Homo sapiens: one gene and its partners. The protein of the gene in region 1 purifies or fractionates together with the protein of each later gene. This does not show direct contact. Each region holds a gene or a part of one and is shown in the gene's direction. Other genes may lie near its edges. The genes, in order: CPS1, TMLHE, PTPN14, TOMM70 and CPT1A.

Evidence for each region.
Region 2: the proteins of CPS1 (region 1) and TMLHE purify together in Homo sapiens (co-immunoprecipitation; one large-scale study listed by IntAct). This does not show direct contact.
Region 3: the proteins of CPS1 (region 1) and PTPN14 purify together in Homo sapiens (co-immunoprecipitation; one large-scale study listed by IntAct). This does not show direct contact.
Region 4: the proteins of CPS1 (region 1) and TOMM70 fractionate together in Homo sapiens (co-fractionation; one large-scale study listed by BioGRID). This does not show direct contact.
Region 5: the proteins of CPS1 (region 1) and CPT1A fractionate together in Homo sapiens (co-fractionation; one large-scale study listed by BioGRID). This does not show direct contact.

The regions. Positions count from the first base shown.
Region 1 is NC_000002.12:210,601,220-210,605,098, forward strand, and holds part of CPS1 (carbamoyl-phosphate synthase [ammonia], mitochondrial isoform b precursor), read left to right. Parts: intron 1-982; coding exon 983-1,111; intron 1,112-3,879. UniProt on the Homo sapiens protein: Involved in the urea cycle of ureotelic animals where the enzyme plays an important role in removing excess ammonia from the cell.
Region 2 is NC_000023.11:155,494,215-155,498,093, reverse strand, and holds part of TMLHE (trimethyllysine dioxygenase, mitochondrial isoform 1 precursor), read left to right. Parts: intron 1-3,879. UniProt on the Homo sapiens protein: Converts trimethyllysine (TML) into hydroxytrimethyllysine (HTML).
Region 3 is NC_000001.11:214,548,711-214,553,246, reverse strand, and holds the start of PTPN14 (tyrosine-protein phosphatase non-receptor type 14), read left to right. Parts: upstream 1-1,644; 5' UTR 1,645-2,064; exon of another isoform or gene 2,065-2,295; intron 2,296-4,536. UniProt on the Homo sapiens protein: Protein tyrosine phosphatase which may play a role in the regulation of lymphangiogenesis, cell-cell adhesion, cell-matrix adhesion, cell migration, cell growth and also regulates TGF-beta gene expression, thereby modulating epithelial-mesenchymal transition.
Region 4 is NC_000003.12:100,383,870-100,387,748, reverse strand, and holds part of TOMM70 (mitochondrial import receptor subunit TOM70), read left to right. Parts: intron 1-770; coding exon 771-944; intron 945-1,404; coding exon 1,405-1,531; intron 1,532-3,160; coding exon 3,161-3,270; intron 3,271-3,879. UniProt on the Homo sapiens protein: Acts as a receptor of the preprotein translocase complex of the outer mitochondrial membrane (TOM complex). Recognizes and mediates the translocation of mitochondrial preproteins from the cytosol into the mitochondria in a chaperone dependent manner.
Region 5 is NC_000011.10:68,758,132-68,762,010, reverse strand, and holds part of CPT1A (carnitine O-palmitoyltransferase 1, liver isoform), read left to right. Parts: intron 1-323; coding exon 324-476; intron 477-1,672; coding exon 1,673-1,786; intron 1,787-2,349; coding exon 2,350-2,442; intron 2,443-3,879. UniProt on the Homo sapiens protein: Catalyzes the transfer of the acyl group of long-chain fatty acid-CoA conjugates onto carnitine, an essential step for the mitochondrial uptake of long-chain fatty acids and their subsequent beta-oxidation in the mitochondrion.

The DNA.
Region 1 (3,879 bases):
CCCCTTATGCCTATCAATAAGCTATTAACAGTTACCAGGAAAAAGAATCAACTCACTTTATATCTGTTTTTGCCCCTGACTTTATTTTTGACTTCAGGCTCATAGCTGGTGAAGTGGAGGTGCTAGGGGCAGTGTTAAATCCAACTTCTCCATGGTAGAAACAGGCACACCCTTAGGAATAAAGCAGGTACTGCTGGGACAACTAAAAATGGGTTATGTATGTTTCAGAAGACAATGCTACCAAGTATCTTTTGTGTTACAAACTTGTCAATCAAATAATCCCAGGATAACTCTGCTGCACAATTTGGGAAGCTCTTGCCATACATTTGTTCTTTCATTGCCAGATTTAATTATGTCCTTGCTTCCTCAGGAAAAGAAACAGGCATATGGGAAAGGTGTAATTACATTCCCATTGGTAGTGTAATAATATTCCATGACAGAAAAATATAGCCACCATATGTTGTATTCTGTAAGTTAAAAAAAAGAATTCCAAGCTTCTGGGACTATGCTCAGACTGAACTTGAAAATGAAAAATCCATTTATATACAGTGTTCCTAATGGCTTATTGTGGTAACATCAAGCTAGCTTCAGCAGCAGAGAACCTGGTTTCATTAAGACAGAGACTTTTAAGCTGCATGTAAAAATCGTAAAAATCCAATAATTCAATATGGCTGCCATTCTCAAATGAATGATGATTATTTCTGCTTTGACCATGGTTCTGTTTCAATAGGACAGGATAAAATTTACCGCAAAAGTGTATTTCTTAGAAGATATATATATATATATCCTCCCTTCTAGAATTTTACTTAACATTTGAGTAACAACACTTGCTTTTCAGAATGAGATGAGGGAATAATAGAACATTTCTAGATTCACTCTCCCCACATAAGTTGGTTTACCTGATTGCCAGACTCTCTTGGTGTGGTCTGTTCTGCCAGTGTGCTCAGCTTTTAAAATGTTGAGTCCTTGTTCTTGTTGACAGATTGAGGATGCACTGAAGGCAGCAGACACCATTGGCTACCCAGTGATGATCCGTTCCGCCTATGCACTGGGTGGGTTAGGCTCAGGCATCTGTCCCAACAGAGAGACTTTGATGGACCTCAGCACAAAGGTATGTATTTTTGTAGACAATATTCTTACCAACCAAAAAAACTGGCTTGATAGACCTTTTCAACTAGAGAAAGTTATGTAGATGAGAAATTACATTTTCTTTATTAAATCATGATCATGTTCTCCAAAAGCGTATTCCAAAAGATGACACTTTTGCGAGAGCATGCAGTGCAACTCTTCATGCCAGGATGCAATGATAAACCACATGGTTCAAGGTAAACCAGTGGTCACTTTACCTCAAATTCCACTTTTATAGTACAATCTATTGACTTCAAGGAGATGAACTTAATTCAACTCCTTCTTCCTTTGTTTCAAAATCTACTCTCAAATATTTAAAATGCTAAAATATGTTTTAGTGGTTAAGGAAAAATAGGACATAATGTCTCATTTTTAATTTTTTAGAAATAATGTGGCTGGCATGGGTGACATCCAGAAAGTGAAACAAAGCACATTGAGTAGTTTGACTTTACTCAAAATTAAGGTGTCTAAAATATACATGGTATAAACCACTCAATACAGTAAATGACTGAACTCCACCAACTGCCATATACTCATAAAAACACGAGAGATTTGAGGGTTTATAATTTATTTTCTATCAAAATCACTTTAACATATTAGGAACTACTTCTTTCTTTGCATGTTAGAGGAAAACTCTTGAGAAAAGTAAGCTATGCTACAAAAACTAAATTAGAGACTAATGCAGAAAATATGCTCCAGGAAAACAGAGACTTTTGTCTATACTCTATTTCCACAAAATAGAACAGTGCCTGGAAATACCAGGAGTTCAATAATGTCTTTGAAGAATGATTACACGTGCAGCCAAGAAACCTGTGTAACTTACATGGCAGTCATAGAAGTGAATTTGACAGAATTACTGTAAGGGCTATTTTGGGAATTATTTAGGAAATAGCTCACGGACAGCTTATTGCTTCATCTTTACTTACTTTTTGAACTGAAGTGAAATGAGACCCTTGAATTGTTGACATAGAATTTTGAAAACAGATAAGTACAATTCAGCATATTTAAATAACTACAATGGCAGACTTACATATAAACAACTTGGGTTTCGTTTTTCTAAAGTTGTGAAAATTACAAAAAAGGGAAACATACCTCACATAAATGTTTCTTGTTACCATTCTGGACATATGAATCACATATTTAGAGCAAAAACATGTTTTTGAAGATAGAAAGTTTATTTCCTCTAGCATGTTAGAGGCTCCAAATATTTTCAATATTAACAACTTCATAACTGCCAATTGTGACAGTGTATACATATTCTCTATTAATTTTTTTACTCTATAAGAAACCAATCTGAAGACTGAACTTTTCATGTAAGAAAGTTTATAATAAAGAGAATTTTGGAATGAAATAGCTTTCAATTATTTATATTGTACTCAAATAATCAATAGTCCCTTAAATGGTTTTTCTTGTTGAAAAAAACCCTCGCTCTTCCCTTGAGAATAATTAGTCATATCATTATGTCCTAAACAATCCCCTATTCTCTTGAGGTTATAATTAGCACCATTAAAAGCTGCATTAACTTATCCAGGTCCCTAAATTAACTTTTTACATAAAATCGAAGACTTCAAAAAATAAAAATAAAAATAAGCTGAGGAAACAGGTGAAGATAATTTCAAATTTTCCCTGTATCTAAATATCCATTTTACTTCATTAGAATGCAAAATACTTTTCCAAATTTATACCCTTTGTTTCCTAGATTTCTTCTTTTAGCAGGCAACCGGAATGATGAATTAATCATTATTAAATTGTTAACATTGGCTACTGAATTTTCTAACCACTTTGAGAACCTCATCGTGGGCAGCTGTGGGGACAAATGTGTCACATTTTCATTTGCACGTGCTGGAGCCTGTAGTGATGACTGAAGTTTAAAAAAATCCTATTAAGGCACATTACAGAAAAACTTACATTAAATTATTATTTTAATGCCTATTAATAATTTGAAAAAATTCAAACTGCTTTCCCTTTCACTGTCAATCCAAATCAAATATATTATAAGACAATAAGACATTTCTCCCTTGGATTATCAGCCACTGCATGTCCTAAGGTCAAAGATTACCACTTTCCTATTTTGGGTTCAGTATTCTACCCATTGTGGGTGTGCCGTAAATATGAAATTATAATTATGCTAATTCATATCTGTCTAATCAGGCATACATGATATATGACTCAGAGTATTTAAGCATTTAGGCAGTGATTAACCATAATAATAGTCCCATATGATTCTTCTAATTCTCAAGTTTTATATGCCATCTTGGCTAACCGTTTACAACCATCATCATCTCCTTTCTCCTCCTCATCAACATCAACTAACTTTTATTGTGTGTGTCACTGTACAAAGCACCCTCAGCTATTTTAGAGAGAGCCAGAGTCTTTAGACTTATTTTTCCATATTTATTCACACTTATCACATTTTCTGGTTTCACAGAAGCCTAGCTGCTGAAATAATTTCATTTCCCTCTGCCTGATTGCTCAATTATTTTCTCTTTTTCCTAAATTAGTTTGATTTACTGTCATATCAGCACTTTGAATGGCAAGCCTCAATAATGTAAATCAAGCATATTCACTGCAGGATGCTATTCCTAGTACCTCACTGATTTTCTGACACATTGTGCCTTCTGTGCAGGGGAGAATGGAGACGGGGTTTGAGAGTTCAGTGCTGACCAGGATTTATGCCAGGGTATTTTGCCAAATATCCTTGTTGAAGCCAGTGCTTTTTCTTACTCTTTGATATCTTTTGTCACCAATTTC
Region 2 (3,879 bases), on another chromosome or scaffold:
GAAAGTTTAACTAATCAGTCACAAATGAACAGCATTTTTGAGCACTAAACAGAGGATTAAAATAATTTCCAAACACTAGAGAAAATTATTGAAAATTCTAATATTTTAGGCTTAAAATATCATTACCCTCATGAAAGCAAAAATCCTATAGATGATATTTTCTAATATATATATATATTCTAAGTACTATGAAATTATAATAGAAATCATCAATTAAAGTGTAACAAGTAATATCTAACCACGGGCAAATTTCTTTTAAGATCACTTTATTATATTTTATGTTATTAAATTAAATTTTGATTTTTTTAATTATTATGGGTAAATAATAGTTGTATATATTTATGGAGTGCATGTGATGTTTTGATACAGGCATACAATATGTAATGATCAAATCAGGATAATTGAGGTATCTATCATTTCAAGCCTTTATTATTTCTTTGTGTTAGGAACACTCCAGTTCTACTCTCTTAGTTATTTTTAAATATACAATAAGTTATTGTTAACTATAGTTGCCTTATTGTGCTGCCAAATACTAGATCTTATTCATTCTCTCTGTGTTTGTACATACTAACCATCCTTACTTTCAGCCTATTTTTTGTCTTTTTAATGATAGCCATTGTAACTGGGGTGAGGTGATATTGTGGTTTTGATTTGCATTTCCCTAATGATTAGTGATGTGGAGCATTTAAAAATATACCCATTTGCCATTTGTCTGCCTTCTTTGGAGAAATGTCTATTCAGAACTTTTGTCCATTTTTAAGGGAATATGTCTTTTTTGGTTATTGAGTTTGAGTTCCTTATATACTCCGGGTATTAATCTCTTGTAGATGCATAGTTTGCAAACATTTTCTCACATTCTGTGAGTTATCTCTTCACTCCGTTGATTGACTGTTTCTTAGAAATTTTCAAATTACGATACATTGTTATTAACTATAGTCATCACATGGAAAAATAGATCACTTGAACTTATTTCTCTGATCTAAAATTATGTATCCTCTGAGCAACATATCCCCAACCACCCAACCACTACTCCACAACCCACCAGCCTCTAGTACCCACCATTCTGCTCTCTATTTCTATGATATCAACTTTTTTTTTACATTACACATATGAGTGAGATCATGCAGTATTGATATTTCTGTGCCTGGCTTATTTTCACTTAATGTTCTCCAGGTTCATCCATGTTGTCACAAATGACAGGACTTTCTTCTTTTTCAAGGATGAATAGTATTCCACTTTTTATGCATACCACATTTTCTCTATATACACTCCCATGTATTCTGCCTAGATTGATTTTATATCTTGGCTATTGTGAATATTTCTGCAAAGAACATGGAAGATATCTCTCGGACATACTGATTTCATTTCCTTTGGGTATATACCCAGTGGTGAGATTGCTGGATGATGTAGTAGTTCTACTTTTAGCTTTTTTTAGAAACCTCCGTATTGTTTTCCATAATGGCTGCACTAATTCACATTCCCACCAACAGTGTGCAAGGGTTCACTTATCTCCACATCCTCATCAACATTGTTATCTTTTGTCTTTTTAATAATAGCCATCCTAAGGCGTATGAGATGATATCCCGTGGTGGTTTTAATTTGAATTTATCTGATTACTAGTGATGTTGAGCACTTTTTCATATACCTCTTGGCCATTTGTATGTCTTCTTTTGAGAAATGTCTATCCAGATCCTTTGCCCATTTTTAAATCAGGTTATTTGTTTTCTTACTATTGAGTTGTTTGAGTTCCTCAAATATTTTAGATATTAACCCCTTATCAGATGTATAGTTTGCAAATACTTTCTCCCATTCTGCAGGTTGTCTCTTCATTCTTTTGTTTCCTTTGCTGTGCAGAAGCTTTTCAGTTTGATGCAATTTCATTTACCTAGTTTTTCTTCCGTTGCTTATACTTTTGGATCATATCCAAAAGGTAATTGTATAGACCAATATCATAGAGTTATACCATGTGTTTTCTTCTAGTAGATTTACGGTGTCAGGTCTTACATGTAAGCGTTTAATCCATTTCTAGTTGATTTTTGTATATGTTGTAAGAAAAGGGTCTAATTTCATTCTTCTGCATGTGGACATCCAGTTTCCCCAGCACCGTTTATTGAATGTATAAGAGTTCTTTTCTCTCCACATACTTGCCAACGTCTGTCATTTTTGGTCTTTGTAATAACAGCCATTCTACAATGGCCATATTCCCATACTGTGGGTTGTTTCTTCACTCTGTTGATTGTTTCCCTTGCCTCACAGAAACTCTTTAGTTTAATCCAGTCTCATTTGTCTATTTCTGGGTTTTGTTTCCTGTGCTTTTGGGGAATAAAATCTTTTCCCAGAGCATTATCCTGGAGAGTCATCCCGAGGTTTTCTTCTAGCATTTTTATAATTTCTATAGCTCCTCCAAGGTCACACACCTGAACTGAGATTGTAATGGTGATCTAACTGAAAGCCTATTTATCTACCTATCTGAAAGCCCACCAGCTTTCACTTACACCACAATACACAAATCCATCAAATGCATCGTCTGCTCAATTATGGAGCTCTCTTGGGAAATACTTGTCTGTCAACTAAGAAGAAGGATAACTTTGTTAAATCTTCCTAGCTTTTCTTGTCAGATAAATGCCTGCTTTATTTGCTTTCCCCTACTCCCACGTCTCTCTTGCTTCATATCAAAGCAGGAAAAAAAGGAAAAACTGCACAATAATATGATGGCATCACTTTGTGCCAAAGTCCAGAAATAGTCTTATTCTAATCCAAAGTATTGCACAACCATTTTGCTTATGTGTAATAGACTTTTCCTGCTACTTTCTCTGTTGGCTTTAGAAAACACCACCATCTAATATAAATAGTGAATACCAAATTCCATGTAAGCTTGGACAAATCACAAGGTCTTATCATTATTTTCCTTATCTATAAAGTAAGACAATAACAGCTGTACTACTTACCTCACGTGGTTATCATGCAGAGGGTCAATCAGATAGTGTATATGGAAACATTTCTAAACTGCAAATCTCAGTTTGAAGTCAAAAGATTGTAAGTGTGATCTGTAAAAATGTTGCTCTCATGAACAAGCGTACACAGGAATTACGATCATTTTTCTGTTCTCTGGTATAAACAATGAGTTAAAGAATTAAGGACACCTGATTTCAAAACCTCTCTGCTACGTATGAACTCTGTGGCAGGTCTCTAAGTTTCAGTTGCCTTAAATGTAAAAGGAGGTTAATAACACCTTTCCTTCTGGGATGATGAAATAAGTAAATTAAATAATATTTTCACAAATGCCTAACCCAGCACTAGAAGTTTCTGGAAATGACAATGGGTGTCAACAGCCTGGTGAAGACTGTGCTTCCTCACTCCATTCTCCCTCCAGGCATGGCTCCTTGAAGCCTGGGAGGATGGACTATTATATTCTTTTTCTTTCTTTCTTTCTTTCTTTTTTTTTTTTTCTTTGAGACAGAGTCTCGCTCTGTCGCCCAGGCTGGAGTGCAGTGGCGCGATCTTGGCTCACTGCAGCGTCCGCCACCCAGGTTCAAGTGATTCTCCTGCCTCAGTCTCCCAAGTAGCTGGGACTACAGGCGCGTGCCACCGCGCCTGGCTAATTTTTTTGTTGTTTTGTTTTGTTTGTATTTTTAGTAGAGATGGGGTTTCGCCATGTTGGCCAGGCTGGTCTTGAACTCCTGGCCTCAGGTGATCTGACCGCTTTGGCCTCCCAAAGTGCTGGGATTACAGGCGTGAGCCATCGCGCCCGGCCTATTTTTGCATTTGATTCTTGCAGTAGCCCTGTGAGATCAGCTAAGCAGATGTTATTATGCTCATTTTATATGCAACAAAACTAAGAATGTTGGCTCTGATTGTGCCATGTACTATCTAACACTA
Region 3 (4,536 bases), on another chromosome or scaffold:
TCTAATTTACAGTTCTAGAGATTGGCAGATGCTCGAAGAAAATCAGAGTCACTACGGATTTATTTATTTTATTTTATTTTATTTTATTTTATTTTTTTGAGAGGAGTCTGGCCGTGTAGCCCAGGCTGGAGTGCAGTGGCGCGATCTCGGCTCACTGCAACCTCCGCCTCCCAAGTTCAAGCAATTAACCTGCCTCAGCCCCAGAGTAGCTGGGACTACAGGCGCACGCCGCCACCCCCGAAACATTTTTTGAATTTTAGTAGAGACGGGGTTTCACCGTGTTGCCCGGGCTGGTGTCGAACTTCTGAGCTCAGCCAATCCCCCAGCTTTGGCTTCCCAAAGTGCTGGGATTACAGGTGTGAGCCACCGCGCTTTTTGGTTTCCAATTCTCTTCCCCAAGAGGCCAGGAATTTTTGCATGAGTTGCCGGACACTGAAGTGATTTGGGACAATACATTGTGTGCCAACGACTTCAAGGTCCCTTTTCAACAAAGGACTGGAATCTTACCGAGATAAATCCCAAGACATGTTTGTAGCAATGCAAAGGACCACAGAAATCTAGACAAATTATTTAATTTTGCAGCTACAGAAACCTAGGATCTCAGGGGCTGGGATACTCCTCAGTTATCCAATCGGGCAGGGCCTAAAACCCAGGTTCAGTCGCCTGGCTCCGAGCTTTTTCCATCATACCAGCTGCGTCTCATTAACTCCACCTCCGAAAGTGCTAAGGAAGTTCCCTCCCAGTGCCTACCCAGGCAGGGTGGGGCGATTCTGTGGCATGGAACAAACCGGGAAAACGACATTTTCCAACTCTCAGCACACAGGCTGCTTTTTATCATTCCTACGGGGCGGGAGGGGGCAGGGAGAGAAGGCTAAGACACCGGGTCCAGTACCCAGAGATTCTAGGGAGAGATCTCTGAGATTGCCTACTTGGTGAGGCCACCTTACTTTCTCCTGGTCTGTTTTCCCCTGTGGGGTGGCTGCATGAAACGTCCTGCTTGGAGGGTTCCCCAATATAAGGTGGACTATTCTGAATGTAGGTCGGGGTGAGCAAGTTCCTGCCGCCGCCCCGTCTCTGCGGTCCTCGGAAGTCTAGGTGGGCTCTTCCTTGCCTTGCCTCTTTCTCCCCAACGGCGGGAGCAGCCCAGGGTTGGGGTGGCTGCGGTCGCCTTGCTCTCTCCACTTCCACGTCTCTTACTCCAGGGAGTTTCATCCGGTCCTCCGTCCTCGGCCCCCACCTTTTAAAACATTTTCCAAAACTACCCCATTAAAAGTGTGCGACTTCTCCGGGCCTGCAGAAGGAGCTCCTGCAGCCCGGCATTCCTCGGATTCCAGCGCTGTGACGTCCCCAAGGACGGCGCGCCTCCAGCTCGGGAGCTCGGGAGCTGGGGCTCCACGTTTCAGCGCGCGCCCGCGGCGCCCCCGGCGCGCGCCCTCCCGGGCCGCATTCCTCCCCGCCCCCGGCCGCGCGCCCAGCGCTCCCTCCGCCTCCCGGCCCCCAGGGCCGCGGAGCCCGGCTCTGGGGTGGGGGAGCCGTGGCCGCCGGCGCCTGCTCCGTCCCCTCCCACTCGCACGGCCCCTTCCTCCCTCCTCTCCCGGCCGCTCGCATTTCCTGCCGCTCTGGCTCTCCCGGCCCCTCAAAGTTCTTTCCAACTTTTTCTCGGCGGAGTGAGCGCAGCGGGCGCAGACTCGGGGGCAGGTTGCTGTGCTTCTCCGGGCTCAGCCGCCTGCTCTCCTGGCTCAGGTCCTCGGGGAGCCCTAGACAGACATCAAGTGGCCACTGGCGCTCCTTCCCCTCCCAGCTGAGCCATCCTCCCCGGCCTCCTCGGGCGGGACAGCCCCGTGCTTAGGTTTTTCTCCTTTTCTCCCCCGGTGCGCCTCTGCTCGGACTCTCGCGCCGGGATCGCGGCGGAAACCTCCCTCCCCTTTCGCCTCCTGCGGCTCCTTCCCTTCGCCCCTCCTCCGCCAGTCACTGGAATCAATTCCGTGGGGAATCGGCTCCGCCGCCGCGAAGGACAGCCTTTCCGCGCGGGACTCCGGGGCGCCACGGGGGCCATGTAAGCAGGTAAGCCCCGTCCAAGCCGGGAGTTGGGCCCGAGGTTGGAGGCCGCCTTGGCGCTCCGGGCGCCCTGCAGATGACTTGGGCAGACGCTGGCAACGCCAACTTGCGATTGGCGCCCCGGGACGCCTGGCAGGGCAGCCTGGGGCGCGGGGTGGCCGGGCCGCAGGGGTGTTATCTCGCGGTGGGAGCTGCCCGCGGTGAGGCGCAAAGCTGGTCCCGGGAGCGAGCTGGAAGGTGAGCGCAGTCTGGGGAGTTTGTGGTTAAACCCACACCCTGGTCCCCTCTCTCCATTCCCTTCTGCGTTTTGGGAACGAGAGAGGGCCTCGGAAGGGCAACTAGAGATACCTAGACCTTGGGGGCTAGAGGATGAAAGACGAACGACGTCGCGGTCGCTGCAGCGGTAGGGGGATGCAGCTGCCCGACGCTCCCAATCACACCCCACCACCACCGGGAAGGAATCTTGAGGGGAGCGGAGTTTTCCTGCCCTCTCACTAGGCCCCAGTGGTGCCACCGAACTCCTGGGCGTCGAGGCTCCTACTTGGGTGGTCGAGCTGGCTCGTAGAAAAAAAGCTGTGGCCAAACAATTTCAGATCAGGTCTTCACCTCAAACTTCCAAAGTTGTAGGTATTAACAGCCTCTCCTTCCCCACGTGACCCCCAGATCTCAGGTTTGAATACTTGTAAATGGGGTTTACACCTTTTCGTTTGGAGAGAGCAGTGAGGTAACGCTGCCCCTATCTCCCTTTCCCTCTCACTTCCTTGGGTTCTTGTTCTCCAACCTTCTCATCCCCACCTACAATTTCAGAAATTGTGGGGTTTCCGCTTAAGTCTAGGGACTGGCTGTCGCAGGTTCTTTGTGAAGGTGAGGAATCTCTAGACTGCAGGTGCGGGCAGTTACAGAGTTTCCACCAATGTGTTAACTTCTTGAAATGGATTAGTTTACTCATTCATCCAACAAACCCAGCTTCTACTCTGCTAGGAACAGGATAGAAAGATGCTAAATGAGATCACAGGGCAGGAGTCTGCAGCCTAGTGGAGGAAACTTGAAGGCCGGTGAAGAATGATAATACATGGAAGAGGGGTTCTGTGAGAGTCTGAGGCGAGCTTGGTCCTGGTGAAGGGTGCACTACACTTAGAGGATAGAGGTTGTGCTCCTCTGGAGGGTGTATTCCAGGCAGAGGAAACAGCTCGTGCAGAGTGAACACAAGAAGGACAGAAAGTTTCCCTAGCCATCTGGGGGCCTGAGGGGCATTTATGGCCATGTTGGTGCAGTGTTGCTGGGATAGCATTCTCTCCACCCCCAATATCAGAAATAAATCTAGAAGCACGTTAGCCACTTATGGGAACCACAAGTAGCTTACCGAGGAGCCAAGGCCTCCCTAATTGGATACACCTCCATGCCTGCTGCTGTTTTACCACAAGCAGCTGTTGTATGATCATCTACATTTTAATTGGCCCATGCTCGGTTTCATTAAAATGGTATTGATTCTTCTTTTTTGTCCCCCACATTCAAGCAATGATTCCTTTTTTAAAAAGGCTGTTTGACAGCCGTAGGTGTGGTAATACCGCAGCATTACGGACCTTGTATTATAAAGTTAGCTAATTGTTTGGTGATGAGGTTGAAGCTTGTGCCATAGAAATGACAGCCTTAATGAGCGGGAGCTGAATGGCATGATGCCCTTTTTGCCCAGTCTGAATGGGTGGCCATGAGGTGCAAAATTCGTTCATCTGTATGTCACTAAGTTTGTTATACTTTTCTCTGCTTTTAAGTCATTACTATTGCTTTAGCACAGTTGTGCTAAAGTCGTTCTTTTCTCTGAAACTTTATGAAAATAGAAAACACTATCTTGCACATTTTTGTAGACTAATGGCCCAGGATTCAGCAAATCCTGCCTAGAAAAGTTTCTTACAATGCAGTAGCATTCTGTACGTGGTTTGCCTTTCAAGGGTGTCTCTTCACTGGACTGAAGTGGTGTTGTAGTATTGTTCATAGTGGCTGAGTCCTGGCTGAGGTGGCAGACATCCAGCTTTTGGTGACCTCAGGCCAGTACATCAGAGTGGGAAGAACACACTGACTTCCTACAACTTTGGGTGTTTATCCAAGCCCCTCTACCAGCATCTTTTCTTATCTCAGGAACAGCCCCTTCACAGAAGTTTTCCTGAAGGTGTAGGGACCTGCATGAGAGAAATGGCTGAAGAGAAGCCCACTCCCACTAATCCCAGACATTTGCCCAGTTTCCATCATTGGCTTAAACATGTAATTATTATTAACACTTGAGTTATTCAGATTTGTGCATACTGTGTCATGCTGGTAGCTGTAATAGAAAGGACAGTTAGGCTTTTAATAGGGAAGCACCATAAGGAATTCAGAGAAAAATCAGAATTTTTAGAATAATTCTTATTTGCCCTGAACGGATGGGCTAAGTGTCAAGAACTATGAGGATTTTTTATTTTCCAGTGCCTTCCTTCCTTATTA
Region 4 (3,879 bases), on another chromosome or scaffold:
CAGGAGAATCACTTGAACCTAGGAGGTGGAGGTTGCAGCAAGCCAAGATTGTGCCACTGCACTCCAGCCTGGGCGACAGACCCTGTCTCAAGAAAAAAAAAAAAAGTATATACGTGTGTGTGTGTGTGTGTGTGTGTGTGTGTGTGTGTCTGTGTCTGTGTCTGTGTCTTTTAGCTGGACGTGGTGGTGTGCACCTGTAATCCCATCTGCCTAGAACATGGAGGTAGGGGGATTGCTTGAGCTTGAGAGTAGCCTGGGCAGCATAGCAAGACACCTCTCATGCTTTTTTGGGGGGGCAGGCGGAGACAGAGTCCCAATCTCTCACCAAGGCTGGAGTACAGTGCTATGATCTCGGCTCACTGTAGCCTCCACCTCCTAGATTCAAGCAATTCTCATGCCTCAGCCACCCGGGTAGTCGGGACTGCAGGCGTGTGCCACCATACCCAGCTATTTTTTGTATTTTTAATAGAGACGGGGTTCCGACACGTTGCCCAGGCTGGTCTCAAACTCCTGGCCTCAAGTGATCCACCCGCCTCAGCCTCCCAAAGTGTTGAGATTATAGGCATGAGCTGCCATGCCTGGCCAAGATATGCTTTTTGACTCAACAATCCTACTAGTTAGAATCTATTCCATGAAGATATTTGTATGAAGCAACTTACATTGTAAACAGCCATTCTGTCTTCCTGTTTTTATCAATTTATTGTTTAATTACTGTGGTCTGAGTCTGTGAATGTTGATTAGTGTTTGATAATTGTTTCCTCTCATTTCAGAACTCTCTTGATAGAGCCCAAGCAGCCAAGAATAAAGGCAATAAATATTTTAAAGCAGGAAAATATGAACAAGCTATTCAGTGCTATACTGAGGCTATTAGCTTGTGCCCTACAGAGAAGAATGTTGACCTTTCTACATTTTATCAAAACAGAGCTGCTGCCTTTGAACAGTTGGTATGTACTCTAGGTTGTTTCTTCTGTTCCTTTTCTTTCTCTTTATTTGCTTAAAGTTTCAGTTAAAGCTACTCAAATAAACCTAATACATTTTTTGAAGTTGTTTCAAAATTATGGGATGTTGTTCTTATTTCCATTAATTGCAAAACTTTTTAAAGAACAAATTCTATAGTTTTGCTGACTACAGATATACTCCAAAGTTAAGTATATTTCACATTTTATAAAATTAGATAGTATAGAAAGTTTCTGGTGACCCTATTCTCCTCAACAGTTTGAGGCTATTTCTTTAACTTTTTGATATTTATATGAGCTTTTGTAATATATTGCAGATATTAACTCTTTGTATTAGGAATACTTTTTTATTCTAGGACTTTTAATACTCAACCTATCAAGTTTAAACTGATTTCTATTGAACAGTACTTTCTTTAGTGTGACTTTTTTTAAATACTTTCAATTACAGCAAAAATGGAAAGAAGTGGCACAAGACTGTACAAAAGCTGTTGAACTTAATCCCAAATATGTGAAAGCTCTCTTTAGACGTGCAAAAGCCCATGAGAAGCTAGACAATAAGAAGGAATGTTTAGAAGGTGAGGGTAATTTTGTGTTTACATATGAAAATTACTTAATATTTTGTAGTCATTGGTAAATGTATATGAAACTGCCTTGTGAGTGCAAGAATCAGTTGTTTTTAAAAGTTGGATTCCTTTGCACTTAAGATTGTGTCTTCTAGTTTAAAGTAAGATTGCTGATACTTAAGTATTGTCTCTGTTCTCAACTATGGAATTAAATGACTATTAAGATTAGGAGTTTATGTACTACACATTTTAAACTTAGCAGCTAATGAGCATTAGTATAATTCTCTGAATAAGGAAATCAGAAAAGAAGTTTTAGCAAGTGATAGTGTTTCTAAGGTTCTACATATTTCATTTAATATGTATAAATATAGCTTTGAGAGCTGTGTTTATAATATGTATAAACATAGCTTTGAGATGAATCATTAAAGAAAACATTGTTTTGTGCCCTTGGTATTTTCAAACATTATTTTATACCCAATTGGAAATTATTGTTTTATACCTAATTTACACCTAATTGGAAATGATGTAATTGGTACAAAGCATCAAAGTGAATTTGTCATTCTCATTAAATGCCATAAATATTCTGTGGTCTCTGATTGGCCATTTCTCTGCTTCCAAAGCTGCAATTAACAGTATACATCCAGCCTTTAAAGTACATTCTTCTAGGTGACATGAAGCAAAACCAAAGTATAATTTTCTACAATCTAAAAGTTCTTTCCACTTAATATATTTGTCTGCTTTAAAAGCATCAGTAAAAGGAAAAGGCCCCTTTCTGAAAAGAAAAGTGTAGATTACCAAATGAGGGTATTTTAGAGAACATTTTAGCAAAATTTGAGGTTTTGTGGTGGCACATACTTTGGTAGTGTGTGAAAAGACTGTTGTTTTAGAAAAGGGAATCCTGAGTTTTGAACCAGACCTTGAAGTTACTAACACAATAACTGGCAGAGAGGAGGTTGATCGAAGTGTCACGTAGAAGAAACAGGATGGGAAAAAAGACATTGACATTGGCGCTAGCCGTGGTTATCAGGGGAATATATCAGCAGATTGACTTGATTGGTGGAGCAAGGATGTGGAATTGCAAGAAATTTAATTCGGGAAGAGACGAGACGTCCATTGTTTGAGTGCTTTGAACGAAAGGCTGAGAGGTTAAGGAACCACTTACTTTTTAATTTCAAACCACTGCATGCATCTTGAGCTGTGACATAACCAGATGAAAATGGTATTGAGGCAGATTTATTTGAGAGCTCTGTGGCAAGATGGCTTTGGAGACAGGGAATAACTCTGAGGCCTATAAACAAACACCAGACATGAGAGAGCCACACTATGTTTATATGCCTTAGAGTTGCTAGCCAGAAGAGAATGTTAGAGTGGTGAGAAACATCAGAAATCATGCAGCATAGCCCCTTTCATTTCACAGTTAAGGAAAGCAAACCCCAGAGAAGTGGAGTGACTTTCTGAGCTTTCAGTTTGGTCATAGAGAATATAAAATTAGGTATTAAGAATCAGTTAATTGGAAATGAAACAGTCCCATTTGGCCATGAATTTAGTTTGGCTTTCTGTAGTTACATTGTACCCATTTGATGCTGCTGACCATCTTTGCAATAATTTTATATTTACCCTTGTGTTTTTCATCATTTCTAGATGTCACTGCTGTGTGTATATTAGAAGGGTTCCAAAATCAACAAAGCATGCTGTTAGCCGATAAAGTTCTTAAACTCCTTGGAAAAGAGAAAGCCAAAGAAAAATATAAGGTAAATTGATCTGATTTGGGGAATGGGGGAGTACTGTGTACATTGTGAAGGGTATTTTCTAATTTATGCTGCTTAAGCTTAGGCATAGTGGTAATGGCAACAACTGCAATTAGAACTGGGTTATATTTCTTCTTCCTGTTATCTTTGGCTTTTATGGCTTGTCCTTCTTCAGTAAGAATATATGCTCTGTCCATTACTCTACCTGGAGAATATTGGAATTCATCTGTGTTAGGGATTGCCACACTGTGGCCCATAGGCCAAATCCAGTCTGCTACCTGTTTTTATAAATAATGTTCAGTCACATGTTGTTTTCAGCTGCCTTTGAGATACAACAGCGGAGTTGAGTGGTTGTGACAAACTGTATAGACTCCAAAGCCTAAAATATTTACTATCTGGCCTTTCACAGAAAAATATTTTTCTATATTATTAAAGTTTTTAAAGGTATACTGAGTAAGTTGGCATTAGTTTTAGGCTATTATTAACAGGTAGTTTAATTCAACAATCATTTATTAAACAAAGCTACATGTTTGGCATTTTGGAGGGATGGGTTCAAAGACATGGCCCTTACCCTTATAGAATTAAAATTTAGTGAGAGAGACTGACTGTTAC
Region 5 (3,879 bases), on another chromosome or scaffold:
CTGATCCCCAGAGCGTGCAGGTGCTTTCCGCTGATCCCCAGAGGAGACACTGGCCAGGGCTCTTTTTTCCGAGACAAACTTCATTCTGGAAAGGCTGTCAGACCGGGCGCGGTGACTCACGCCTGTAATCCCAGTACTTTGGGAGGATGAGGTGGGCGGATTGCCTGAGCTCAGGAGTTCGAAACCACCCTGGGCAACATGTTGAAACCCCGTCTCTACTAAAAATAACAAAAAATATTAGCCGGGTGCGGTGGCTAACTTAGATCCGTAACTGCTCAACTTGAGACATGCAACATATGTCCTTCCCACCTTTTGTCACTCAGGTGGAACAGAGGCTGAAGTTGTTCAAGTTGGCGTCTGAGAAGCATCAGCATATGTATCGCCTCGCCATGACCGGCTCTGGGATCGATCGTCACCTCTTCTGCCTTTACGTGGTGTCTAAATATCTCGCTGTGGAGTCCCCTTTCCTTAAGGAAGTAAGTCTCTTCCACTTCTTCCGTCAGTTGTATTGGCTAGACCAAAACTTAGTAAATTACTACAGCCTTGCATGAACATATTTTAATGTCAGAATGGGCATTTGAAAAAAACGGGTCTGTGGGTGTAGCTGTCATAAAATGGAAAATGTGAGCAGCGCGTTTAGTACTGCATTTCTTCAAAAACTTCGCTGTCACATGTAGCCCCTGACTTAATAGACCCGAAGACCTCGAGAGCTTACGTCACAGTAAGACGCACGGAAGTAACTAGGGAGTGATGAGCTGTGAGCGCGTACCACCTTTGTTTTAAAAATCCTTTATTTTATTGTAAGTTTATGAAATATATTATTATTGTTTTTTGAGACAGGGTCTTACAGTGTTGCCCAGGCTGGGCTCAAACTCCTAGACACAAGCAATTCTTCGTCCTTAGCCTGCTGAGTAGCTGATGTGCACCACTGTGCCCAGCTCAAATTTAATTTAAGTTTTATTTATTTATTTATTTATTTTTTATTTTTTGGAGATGGAGTCTCGCTCTGTCACCCAGGCTGGAGTGCAGTGGCGCCATCTTGGCTCACTGAAACCTCCGCCTCCCGGGTTCAAGCTATTCTCCTGCCTCAGCCTCCCAAGTAGCTGGGATTACAGGCACACGCTGCCATGCCTGGCTAATTTTTTTTGTTGTTGTATTTTAGTAGAGACGGGGTTTCACCGTGTTGCCCAGGCTGGTCTCGAACTCCTGAGCTCAGGCAATCCACCCGCGTCGGGTTCCCAAAGTGCTGAGATTACAGACATGAACCATTGCGCCTGGCAAATTTAATTTTTAATAGTGGCTGTATTTAATAGCCAGCTTGAAAATTCTCTGAAAATATGGCAGCTGGCTCGTGGGAGTTGGTACAAGTCTGACACCTCTGTCCCCGTTCCGAATCTTACTCCATATATCTGTTACCTTCACTGTCTGAGATGCTATTTGCTGGTATGCCCCCACCCCCACCCTGCACTCCCTGCCCCAGTCTGGGGGCCCCACCCACCCCGCATGCTCTCTGCAGATACGCTGCCCAAGCCAGTGAGGCCTTTGGAGACATAGACTTGTGGTGTGTGGAACAATCAAAAGACCAAGCCAGGCTTTTCTCGTCTTCCCAAAGCGACTCCTGAGGGACGGTAGAGGAGGGGATTAGGAAACATTTCCCTGTTTCACTCAATAGGTTTTATCTGAGCCTTGGAGATTATCAACAAGCCAGACCCCTCAGCAGCAAGTGGAGCTGTTTGACTTGGAGAATAACCCAGAGTACGTGTCCAGCGGAGGGGGCTTTGGACCGGTGAGTGCGGCGGGGCTGGGCGAGGCGCAGTGGGGCGTGGTGATGGGATGGGTAATGGGGTGTGATGGGCCCATCTCCGTGCTGGGTGCCCCCGTTACCTTGCGGTTCTACCGCCGTAAAGGAATTACTGCTGATCATTGCTATGGATGTCCTTGGCAGTCTTGCACTTATTTTTTATTTTTTTGAGACAAGGTCTCGCTCTGTCACCCAGGCTGGAGTGCAGTAAGCATGATCATGGCTCATGGCAGCCTGAATCTCCCCCATCTCAGGTGATCCTCCCACCTCCACCTCCTGAGTAGCTGGGACTACAGATGCATGCCACCATGCCCAGCTAATTTGTGTGTGTGTGTGTATTTTTTTGTAGAGACAGGGTTTCACCATGTTGTCCGGGCTGGTCTCGAACCCCTGGGCTCAAGTGACCCGCCTGCCTCAGCCTCCCAAAATGCTGGGATTACAAGGAGAAGCCACCGAGCCCCGCCAGTGTTGCATTTAGAACATTAGAAAGTCCCTTTTTCACGTTGTCTCATTTCCCAGCAACAAATTCAAATTCCCTTGTCCTCCAGGTTGCTGATGACGGCTATGGTGTGTCGTACATCCTTGTGGGAGAGAACCTCATCAATTTCCACATTTCTTCCAAGTTCTCTTGCCCTGAGACGGTATGTATGAAAAGAAGTTCCTTTTTCTGAAGATGGGGTATTTTTGCTTTATTCTTTTTAAGGAAACACATCTTTAATTTGACAGAAAAAGTCAATTCAACTGCCTGCTTTTACTTGATTTCGGGAATTTTCACATAAATGGACTGCTTTTAAAAAAAAATTTTTTTTTTTTTGGAGACACAGTCTCACTCTGTCGCCCAGGCTGGAGTGCAGGGGCGAGATCTTGGCTCACTGTAACCTCTGCCTCCCGGGCTCAAGTGATTCTCCTGCCTCAGCCTCCCAAGTAGCTGGGACTACAGGCACCCGCCACTACCCCGGCTAATTTTTTTGTATTTTTAGTAGAGACAGGGTTTCACCATGTTGGGCAGGCTGGTCTCAAACTCCTGACCTCAGATGATCCACCTGCCTCGACCTCCCAAAGTGCTGAGATTACAGGCATGAGCCACCGCGCCTGGCCTAAATTTTTTTAATTAAAAAATTGTTTGTACAGACAGGGTCTCCCCACATTTCCCAGGCAAGTCTTGAACTCCTGGGCTCACGCGATCCTCTTACCTCAGCCTCCCAGTGTTGGGATTACAGGCTTCAGCCACTGTGCCCAGCCATAAGTGAATTTCAAAATTCTCTTTACCTAGTTTTAAACAAATGTATCTCAGCCAGGCACGGTGGCTCACACCTATAATCTCAGCACTTTGGGAGGCTGAGGCTGGCCAATCACTTGAGGTGAGGAGTTTGAAACCATCCTGGCCAACATGGTGAAACCCCGCCTCTACTAAAAATACAAAACTTAGCTGGTGTGGTGGCACACGCCTGTAATCCCAGCTACTCAGGAGGCTGAGGTAGGAGAATCGCTTGAACCCGGGAGGTGGAGGTTGTAGTGAGCCAGGATCATGCCACTGCACTCCAGCCTGGGTGATGGAGTGAGACTCCGTCTCAGAAAAAAAAAAAAAAAAAAGGAAATGTATCTAATTTGGTTTAACATGTTTACCTCTGTTGGCAGCAATGGTTTTGAAGCTTAACGTTGGAGTGCTGCTGTAACTTTCAGACTCTTTAGCACTTGGAAGATGAACTAAAAATAATGGGTACACACTAAGAAATCTGCATACAGAGCAGGGGACCCCCGGCTTCCTCTGTGGATGGAACAAGGGACCTCCTCCCTAGCATGGCACATTGCCCTTATTTATATTCTGCTTTCCTTGTCGTACATAGCCTGGCAACCCATGCCACTGTCGCTGTTAACAGAGGAAGTTGGGGTTTATTTGTTCACTGCGGTTTTCTTTTGTTGTTTGTTTGTTTGTTTGTTTTAGACAGGGTCTCACTCTGCCACCCAGGCTAGAGTGCAGTGGTGTGATCTCGGCTCACTGCAGCTTCAGCCTCCTGGGCTCAGGGGATCCTCCTACTTCAGCCTCCTGAGTAGCTGGGACTATAGGGGAGTGCCAC